Homo sapiens: one gene and its partners. The protein of the gene in region 3 purifies or fractionates together with the protein of the main gene of each other region. This does not show direct contact. Each region holds a gene or a part of one and is shown on either strand. Other genes may lie near its edges.

Region 1 (3,500 bases), on a different chromosome or scaffold from region 3:
TGTGGTTTATTTTTTTACTTTACTTATGGTTTATTTTGTTGTGTAGAAATTTTAAATTTTAGGTGAAATGTAGTCAAAGTTATCAATCTTTTCCTTACACTCTGTAAATTGTCATCTTTTTCTTAACTGCCTTCCTCTAACCTCCACCCACAACAAAACCTAATCCTCTCTGCTATCAAACACTTCACCTATATTGTACCTTCTTCTTTTAACCACGTCTATGAGCTAATGAGGCTACTAGTGTCACAGAAAAGAAGCAAGCCTTGGATTCAAGCCCTGGCTTTGTCATGAGAGGCAGTATAGCATAGTGATGAAGAAATGGATTATGAGCTACAGTGTTGATTTGAAAATTGAGCCCAGCACTTACTAGCTGTATAATCTCAGGCAAGTTACTGGACCTCTGTGTGACTCAGTGTCCTCATCTATAAAATGGGGATAATAATAGTATCTCCCTCATGAAGTTGGATCTGGCATAAGGATTAAATGAGTTAATACAGGTACTGCCCTAATAATAGTGTCTGGCACATAATAAGCATTATATGTGTGTTTGCCATTATTATTGCTAACTCTGTAACTACGGGCAAGTTATCTCCTTAATCTCAGTTTTCTCTTTTGTAAGATAAGGCTACCTTGGAGTATGGGAAATAAAATAGCATAAAATACTAAAATAGTGCTTATCTCCACGCTTGGCACTTATAAGGTATTCAACAGATGTTAGTGTTCTCTCTTCTTCCTCATTGGGGCTAGGGACCATGGCCTTATCTTTAAATCCTCAGCCTCTAGCACAGAGTCTAGCATAAAATAAGGTGCTAAAAATTGTTTGAGCACCTGCTGTGTGCCAAGGCCTCTGCCAGGCACTAAAGACACTGAGGCACAGAGCCTGCCCCTCAGGATGTTCTCAGGCTACAAGTAAGAATGAATGAGACAGAGAAACCACCCTGACAACCCTCAGATGAAAAGCATGGGCCAGTGCAATGGTTTTCACACCAGGCTCCCTAGAGTCCATATTTAAAATCAACATATATGACTGCTTTACTATTTATCATTTCTGATTGAGCATATATATCAATGATCCTCACTGAGCATCAGCTTCCTCATTTGAAAAGTGGGGATACTTTGCAAGGGTTGTTGCAAGAATGAGATATGATCAAGTACACACACAGTCTTTGGTACAGCACCTGGCACACGGACAGCACTCTCTTCTCCCCTCAAACACAGGCCACTGTTGGGGCCTTTTCCTCAGGAGTACTGGGTGGACCTCTGAGTTTTTCTCAGACAGCATTAAGGTCAGGGATGACAACAATCCCCGGCCCAATCCTGTTTTAGACTTCCACTGCTGGTGACCAAATCCTAAAAGGAGCCAGCTCATCTGAGGGCAGAGCTGGAACTCAGCATATCAATGAAAAAGTGTGAGAATACCTTCTCCTCCAACATCAAATGGTCCAATCTCCACCTAGTCAAAGTGACTAAATTTGTCTCAAGTTGTAAAGTTATTTGAAGAATTTTTAAAAATCATTCTTTTTATTTTTATTTTTTAGTAGAGATAGGGTCTCCTTATGTTGCCCAGGCTGGTCTCAAACTCCTTGGGCTCAAGCAATCCTCCTGCCTTGGCCTCCCAAAGTGTTGGGATTACAGGCGGCAGCCACTGTGCCAACCCAGCCTTTAGTAGAGACAGGGTCTTGCTATGTTGCCCAGACTGGTCTCAAACTCCTAGCCTCTGGCAATCCTCCCATCTTAGCCTTCCAAAGTGCTGGGATTATAGGCATGAGCCACTGCGCTCAGCCCCATTTAAAGACCTTTGAAGGATATACTAGTACTTGTAATGATGACGTGGCACTAATATAACACATAATTGTATTCCTCCAAAATTACTTGCAAGGGTTGCTACTGAAGTTCAGAAAAGTCTAATAATACATGGCATGCCCCACCAATAGTGCAGTTCTCCACATTTCCAGGCAACCCTCACACTCACCCAAGTTCAACTGAAATACGGTAAACAAATCAGTACTAAACATACCATAGAGATCTGGATTGCTGCGGATATATAACCTCACAAAGTTTTTCCCGGGTATTGGCAAAAGAGATCCTTTAATTCTGTCAAAGACCTGGAAAACATCATAGCAGTAATTCTACTGAAGTTTTTTAAGTTTAATAAATTCAACTACTACAAAATTGAAACTCAGTCATTAGAGCTTTTATGATAGTATTTTCAAATGCTAATAACCCTTTACTTTTGTAAGACCATTTTCAGTATATAAAGGCTTTCACATTATTTGGTTGTTCAACCATTAAAGAAACAAGTCTCCTTTACCCGTAAAAGGAAAGGTGAAATTGGTTTCCAAACCTGGTAGGTGTCCACATCAAAGAATGTTTGGTAGTATTCAAATGTCCAGAAGGGGGAGCTTTTCTTCTGTCCAGCAAGTAACTGTCAGAAATAAAATAAAACATAATGAACACATAAGCAATTTCTTAATTCCAGCTGCGTGGGGTGCAGGAGGGATCTGATCTAATGGAAAAGCAAAACGTTTGAAACAATAGGCTCTTCCACATTCAATAACCAACTCTGAAATAGCCAATTCGCAACTCTCAGCCTGATTAGAAAAACAAGCATTGGTTTTGAAGTCACACCAAAAGGGTTCAAATCCTGGCCCCTCCACTGAGGGGAGCTTTGGCAAATCACTAGACTCCTGCTGGGCTTAGTTCCCTTATCTAGATTCAACAGTATATAGAATTATGTACAATAATAAATACATATACACACATACAACACATACAGAAGGCAGTCAGTGTAAATATCTTTTCGCTTTTTTTTTTTGAGATGGCGTCTCACTCTCTTTCCCAAGCTGGAGTGCAGTAGTGCAATCATAGCTCACTGCAGCCTTGAACTCCTGGGCTCAAACAATCTTCCCACCTCAGCTTCCCAAGCAGCTGGGACTACACGCGTACACCACTATGCCCAGCTAATTGTTTAATTTTTGTAGAGACAGAGTCTCATTATTTTGCCCAGGCTGGTCTCAAACTCTTGGGCTCAAGTGATACTCCCGCCTCAGCCTCCCAAAGCACGGGGATTACAAGCGTGAGCCACTGCATCCAGCAGTGTAAATATCTCTTCCTCCCCCATCCATCCACAATCCTCCCTACTATTGCCACCTGAATTCTCAAAAATCTGATATATTGACTCACTCTAAAGTACTAAAAATATTACTACTCTGACAAAAAAAAAAATCCTATTGAGAAGAGGCACCTGAGGAGGGCCATACCCATCCCAACAACACAGCTCTTTGGTGGCAGAATGCATGCCCAATGCCAGGAATTGTGCCTGTCATCTTCAGATATCCGAAGGGAATTCATACAGCAAAAAGTACGGTGAACACTGAGCTGCTTTGCAGGACAAGGGCAGGTGCTATAGGCAGATATTTTTTGTTCATTATAAAGGAAAACGGATGGCCGATTAGAAGTAGCTGTGGTCTGCAGCACTCACAGAGAGGAGTGAAAGCGGT
Region 2 (3,500 bases), on a different chromosome or scaffold from region 3:
CGATGGGGAACCCTATGTCCTCTGGATCCCAAGAGAGGATGTGCTAACCAACTTTCCCCTACCCACAGCGGGAGCACCAGCCATTTAGCCTGCAGTGTGAGGCTGTGTACAAAGCCCTGAAGATGCCCTACCGAATCCTGCCTCGGCAGCTGCCCCAAAAAGAGCGTCAGGTGAGTCTAGGGCCAGAGGACTGGATGAGGGAATACAGGGCTCAGAGTGCTGGAACAGGGCTGGGACTTGGGTGAGGGCTGGCCTTGGTATTGTTAACAACTGTTGAGAATGTACTATGTGCCAAGCACTGTGCAGATGCCAGAGACAGAGTGGTAAGCAAGATCAACATGGTATCTTTGCTCCTGGTGTTCACAGTCTCGTGGAACAACACAGTGTTCCAAGTGTGGTGATATTTATGAAAACACATAATAGGAACACCTGAACCCAGTCTAACTGGGTCAGGGAAGGCTTCCTGGAAGAAGTGATGTTCAAGCTGAGACCTGAAGAATAAATAGGAACTAACCAGGCTAGCCATTCAGGAAAGGGATATCCTGGGGAGAGGTGAATAACAGATATGAGGCTGAGCGCAGTGGCTCACACCTGTAATCCCAGCACTTTGGAAGGCCAAGGCAAGTGGATTGCTTGAGCTCAGAAGTTCAAGATCAACCTGGGCAACATAGTGAGATCCTGTCTCTACAAAAAATACAAAAATTAGCCAGATGTGGTGGCGCATATCTGTGGTCCCAGCTACTCGGGAGGCTGAGGCAGGAGGATCGCTTGAGACCAGGATGCAGAGGTTGTAGTAAGCTGAGATCACACCACTGCACTCCAGCCTGAGTGACAGAGTGAGACTCTGTCAAAAAAAAAAAAAAATGGATATGATATGAAAGCCCGAAAGTAAGAGACAATATTGTACATTTTAGGAACTTCAATTTTTAAGTTCAGAATGCTGTTAGTTCAAAATAAGAGGTGGAGTTGATCTGGAACCCAGACTCAGACATTGGCACCTAATCCAGGCAGATCCAGGACTATATTTGGGCCTGCTCCAGACCTGATCCTGGAGGCCCAGTTCACCCTGATTTAGGAGAAGCCAGGAATTTCCCAGGACCCTGAAGGGGCCATGATGGCAACAGATCTGGAACCTCAGCCTGGCCAGACACAGGCCCTCCCTGTTCCCCAGAGAAAGGGGAGCCCACTGGGCTCTGCAGATCCAATGACAAGTGGGGGCCAAGTATAGGGTAGAAAGAACTTCTGAGCTTTCATTGACTTCACCCAACTTGCTCCCCAGGTGGCCACAGCTGTGCAATGGACCAAGGCAGAAGGCAGCTATGGCGTCCCACTGTGGATCATCATCCTAGCCATCCTGTTTGGCCTCCTGCTCCTAGGTCTACTCATCTACATCCTCTACAAGGTCAGCCACATCCTGCTTGTGACTTGGCCACCCTCTCATCAGGCTCTGCCCTTGACCTGGCACAGTCCCAAGTATCTACCTCTAGACCAGTTCACCAGCCATGTGCCCCCACCTCTGTCCTGGCTACATGCATCCCATCCTAACCCTTCCTATAAGATCCCCCCCTTCATTCTATAGCCCCTAGCTTAGAAAGGGTCCTCTTGACTCAAGATGATAAGTTTGCCTATACTTGCAAAATCATTGGAACCCAAAGATGACAAATACGTGGCATTTGTGCTGTCAATTTCTCCAAAAATCCATGGCAGCCATCACTAACCTAGAAATGGCTACTGATCATCTCCTAGAAGTGGCTTCAGAATCTCTCTCAAGAGGCAGCCATGGCCAGGTGTGGTGGCTCACACCTGTAATCCCAACATTTTGGGAGGCCAGGGTGGGAAGACAGCTTGAGCCCAGGAATTCAAGACCAGCCTGGGTAACACACTAGGACCTTGTCTCTACAAAAAAAACACAAAGATTAGCCAGGTTTGGTGGTGCGTGCCTATAGTCCCAGCTACTCTGGAGGCTGAGGTGGGAGGATCGCTTGAGCCCAGGAGTTTGAGGCTACAGTGAGCCATGATCATGCCACTGCACTCCAGGCTGGTCAACAGAGTGAGACCCTGTCTCAAAAACAAACAAACAAACAGAAGCAGCCACTACTAAGCAATCAGACTTGGCATTTGAGTTCAAACCTATCTGCCATTTCTGGCTTAACTGGGGAATTTTAAAGGCACTGGTAAAAGATACCCCCCATACAAAATCACCCCCAAGTTTGGTCCTCCTGGGTCCATTGCACAACTTAGAGGGGTAGTCCTAGCCTGAATTCAGAGGCCACTTTTGCAGGATGTAGAGGTTGGAGGCACTAGAGTCCTCCTTATTACTTCTTGGAATAAGAGCTGTGGAGAAATGGCAGCCATAGTACCTAAACTCTCCCTCTTTTCCCCTTTATCAGCTTGGATTCTTCAAACGCTCCCTCCCATATGGCACCGCCATGGAAAAAGCTCAGCTCAAGCCTCCAGCCACCTCTGATGCCTGAGTCCTCCCAATTTCAGACTCCCATTCCTGAAGAACCAGTCCCCCCACCCTCATTCTACTGAAAAGGAGGGGTCTGGGTACTTCTTGAAGGTGCTGACGGCCAGGGAGAAGCTCCTCTCCCCAGCCCAGAGACATACTTGAAGGGCCAGAGCCAGGGGGGTGAGGAGCTGGGGATCCCTCCCCCCCATGCACTGTGAAGGACCCTTGTTTACACATACCCTCTTCATGGATGGGGGAACTCAGATCCAGGGACAGAGGCCCCAGCCTCCCTGAAGCCTTTGCATTTTGGAGAGTTTCCTGAAACAACTTGGAAAGATAACTAGGAAATCCATTCACAGTTCTTTGGGCCAGACATGCCACAAGGACTTCCTGTCCAGCTCCAACCTGCAAAGATCTGTCCTCAGCCTTGCCAGAGATCCAAAAGAAGCCCCCAGCTAAGAACCTGGAACTTGGGGAGTTAAGACCTGGCAGCTCTGGACAGCCCCACCCTGGTGGGCCAACAAAGAACACTAACTATGCATGGTGCCCCAGGACCAGCTCAGGACAGATGCCACACAAGGATAGATGCTGGCCCAGGGCCCAGAGCCCAGCTCCAAGGGGAATCAGAACTCAAATGGGGCCAGATCCAGCCTGGGGTCTGGAGTTGATCTGGAACCCAGACTCAGACATTGGCACCTAATCCAGGCAGATCCAGGACTATATTTGGGCCTGCTCCAGACCTGATCCTGGAGGCCCAGTTCACCCTGATTTAGGAGAAGCCAGGAATTTCCCAGGACCCTGAAGGGGCCATGATGGCAACAGATCTGGAACCTCAGCCTGGCCAGACACAGGCCCTCCCTGTTCCCCAGAGAAAGGGGAGCCCACTGTCCTGGGCCTGCAGAATTTGGGTTCTGCCTGCCAGCTGCACTGATGCTGCCCCTCATCTCTCTGCCCAACCCTTCCCTCACCTTGGCACCAGACACCCAGGACTTATTTAAACTCTGTTGCAAGTGCAATAAATCTGACCCAGTGCCCCCACTGACCAGAA
Region 3 (3,500 bases):
AATTATAAACCTCATATTTTTTAAAATCATTGTCTAGAGGTTTTAAAACTTTCTAGCTAATTTCCCATTGATAATACGAGAGTTTAACTAATTATATGAGAAAATTCATGAAGACATTTGCCCATGAAATATTAACATATAGGTACTGTTATCATTAAAGATTCATACTTAAACCCCAGAGAAGATAAACTGTAAATATTAGACTTAAAATTATTATTCTTACCATAGTGAGTCCTTAGTTGTGTCTTTATCTCACCAATTGTTTTACTTGAACCAATGGCATTTGTCAAGGGTTCTACATCAGTCTCTATAGACATAAAACACATTTCAAAACACTTTTTAAGGTAACCATTTATGTTACACATGTATTTTAGTTCTTTTTTCTTTTGAAATTTCTTTTTCTTTTCTTTTCCTTTTTTTTTTTAGAGACAGGATCTTGTTCTGTCACTCAGGCTGGAGTGCAGAGGTGTGAACATGGCTGACTGCAGTTTCAACCTCCTGGGCTCAAGTGGTCCCCCGCCTTGGCCTCTCCAAGTAGCTGGGACTACAGGTGTGCACCACCATGCCTGGCTAATTTTTGTATTTTTTGTAGAGATAGGGTTTTGCTGTGTTGTCTTTTGAAATTTCTATATTATTTGCTGATATCTCTGTTACCTTCCTTTTCTTCCTTAAGAATAATTTCCTTTAACTCTAAGAACACACTTATAATAAGTGCTTTGAGGTTTCGTTGGCTAGGTCCAACACCTGGAACTCTCACAAACAGTTATTGTGGCATGCCCTTTTCCTTGGTGTAGGTCACACTTCACTGTTTCTTTGCATGTTAATAATTTTTGCTCAAGTTTTGACAGTTTCCGTAGTATATTGTAGCATCTCCAGGTACTGATTTCCTCCTCCTCTATCTGGGGCTTGTCATTGTTCTCTCCTTATTTATTTGCATAGCGATGTGACTGGGCTATTGTACTAAAGTCTCTTGCCTGTAGTGTGAAGTGCTACTGCTGCTCTCCAAGGGGCAGAGCCTTGAACATGCATCCAGTACCTTGGATAACATTGGTTTTAGAGGGCCGGCTTCGAATGTGTCTCTTTACCTTATTTCTCTGTTAAGCTGTCTGCCTCTTTTTGTATCACACCAGAGATAAAGAAAATTGTATAACTACATAACACCCTTACACCAAGATGAAAGCCAGTAATGTAATCTCTGAATTATGTAACACAAATAAAGTACTGTATTGCAGGTGAGATTTTATAAATTTGCCTGACATTTTTATCAAATAGAAGGAATGGATAACCAGTGAAATAATTATGTGTTATACTCCTCTTGTCATCGCAGTCTTCAGCTAGCCTTTGTGCTTTTGCCTTTCTGCTTTTGCTAATTAAATATCACTTTTCAGAAACAAAAGTAAGTAGAATAGCTTTGGAAATGCCTACATTGAGACTACTCTAAGGTAACTGTAACACTGAATTTTTATGCATTACTTTTCAAATGGATGAGTTTTAAAACCAATAATATGCTAATGTTCCACTGATAGTAAATGCTAGAGCTTAATTAAAGGATATTCATGATGAATTTTACCTATGTAACACTAACATGTAGGCACTATTGTCATTAAATGTCTATACTTAATTTAACTCAGGGAACATAAATAGGTCACAAATATTAGACTCAAAAATTATTTTTCTTACCCTGGTGACTCTTTAATTGTGCACTGATTGGTCCCTTTATTATATCTCTTCCAATAGCATCTTTTAAGAGTTCTTTATCAGTCTCTATAGAATTAAACAGATTTCAAAATACTTTATAAGGTAAACATTACCATACATGTGTATACGTGTGTGTTTAACTAATTATAGAAGGATATTCATGAAGAATTTCACCAATGTAACACTATGATATAGGTACCTATGTAATAATAACATGTAGACACTGTTGTCATTAAAGGTCTATACTTAACTCAGGGAACATAAATAGGTCACAAATATTAGACTCAAAAATTCTTTTTCTTACCCTGGTGACTCTTTAATTGTGCATTGATAGTCCCTTTATTATATGTCTTCCAATAGCATCTTTTGCTATGGAAAGTACTATGATACAGGTACTGTTGTCATTAAAGGTCTATACTTCAATTTAACTCAGGGAATATAAATAAGCCTAAATATTAGACTTGAAAAATTCTTTCTCTTACCTCGGTGACTCTTCAGTTGTGTAGTGATTGGCCCTATTATTATACCTCTTCCAATAGCATCTGCCAAGAATTCCTTATCAGTCTCTATTGAAATAAAACAGATTTCAATATATTTTATAAGGTAAACATTACCATACCTCTGTGTGTATCTGTGTGTGTGTGTATGTGTGTGTGTGTGTGTGTGTGTGTGTAATTATGGAAGGGTATTCATGAAGAATTTTACCTGTGTAATACCAACATATAGGTACTATTGCCATTAAATGTCCACACTTAATTTAACTCCAGGAATATAAATAAACCATAAATATTAGTCTTGAAATTGTTTTCTCTTACCTGGGTGACTTTTTAATTGTGTCGTGGTTGACTCCTTCATTAGACCTCTTCCAGTAGCATAGGCAAAGAAGTTCTTATCAGTCTCTATAGAAATAAAACAGATTTCAGTATATTTTGTAAGATTATCATTACCATACTTGTGTGTGTTTTTGTGTTTAATTATAGGAGGATATTCATGAATAATTTTACTTATGTAACACTATAATATAGGTAGTTTTGTTATTAAAGGTCTATACTTAATTTAACTCAGGGAATATCAATCAGCCATAAATATTAGATGTGAAAAATTCTTTTTCTTACTTTGGTGACCCTTTAGTTGTGCATTGATTGATCCCTTTATTATACCTCTTCCAGTATCATCTGCTAAGTGTTCCTTATCAGTCTCTATATAAATAAAACAGATATCAATATATTTTGAAAGGTAAACATTACCAAATCTGAGTATGTGTATGTGTTTAATTATAGGAGGATATTCATTTAGAATTTCACCTATATAATACTAACATATTGGTACTATTGTCATTAAAGGTTCATACTTAATTTAACTCCGGGAATATGAATAAACCATAAATATTAGTCTTGAAAAAAATTTTTTTTACCTTGGTGACATTTAAATTGTGTTTTAATTGACCCCTTTATTATACCTCTTCCAATAGCATCTGCTAAGAGTTCCTTATTAGTCTCTATAGAAATAAAGCAGATTTCAATATATTTTATAAGGTAAACATTTTATGTGTGTGTGTGCATGTGTAGTGCACATGTGAGTTTTTATTATTATAGTAGAAGAGTCACAACATGTCTTATTGCAGTAAGCATCACAAAACAGAATTTGAAGGGCTATTAGAACTCATATAAGCCTATTATATTGAAGTTCAGAGATGCTTCATGATTTGAACAAGACCACATCAAGATAATGACAAAATTGATGTACAAACTGACACTTTATAATTCCTTAACCACTGACTTTACCATATAATGCATCTCTTA

Evidence for each region. Proteins that work in one complex are often made in the same cells at the same time.
Region 1: the proteins of CCDC7 (region 3) and YIPF1 fractionate together in Homo sapiens (co-fractionation; one large-scale study listed by BioGRID). This does not show direct contact.
Region 2: the proteins of CCDC7 (region 3) and ITGA5 fractionate together in Homo sapiens (co-fractionation; one large-scale study listed by BioGRID). This does not show direct contact.

What each region holds. Positions count from the first base shown.
Region 1 is NC_000001.11:53,876,298-53,879,797, forward strand, and holds part of YIPF1 (protein YIPF1), read right to left. Parts: intron 2,426-3,500; coding exon 2,345-2,425; intron 2,106-2,344; coding exon 2,018-2,105; intron 1-2,017.
Region 2 is NC_000012.12:54,395,267-54,398,766, reverse strand, and holds part of ITGA5 (integrin alpha-5 precursor), read left to right. Parts: intron 1-68; coding exon 69-170; intron 171-1,279; coding exon 1,280-1,402; intron 1,403-2,390; coding exon 2,391-2,474; 3' UTR 2,475-3,500.
Region 3 is NC_000010.11:32,844,640-32,848,139, reverse strand, and holds part of CCDC7 (uncharacterized protein C10orf68), read right to left. Parts: intron 2,898-3,500; coding exon 2,814-2,897; intron 2,598-2,813; coding exon 2,514-2,597; intron 2,265-2,513; coding exon 2,181-2,264; intron 1,765-2,180; coding exon 1,681-1,764; intron 308-1,680; coding exon 224-307; intron 1-223. UniProt on the Homo sapiens protein: May play a role in tumorigenesis.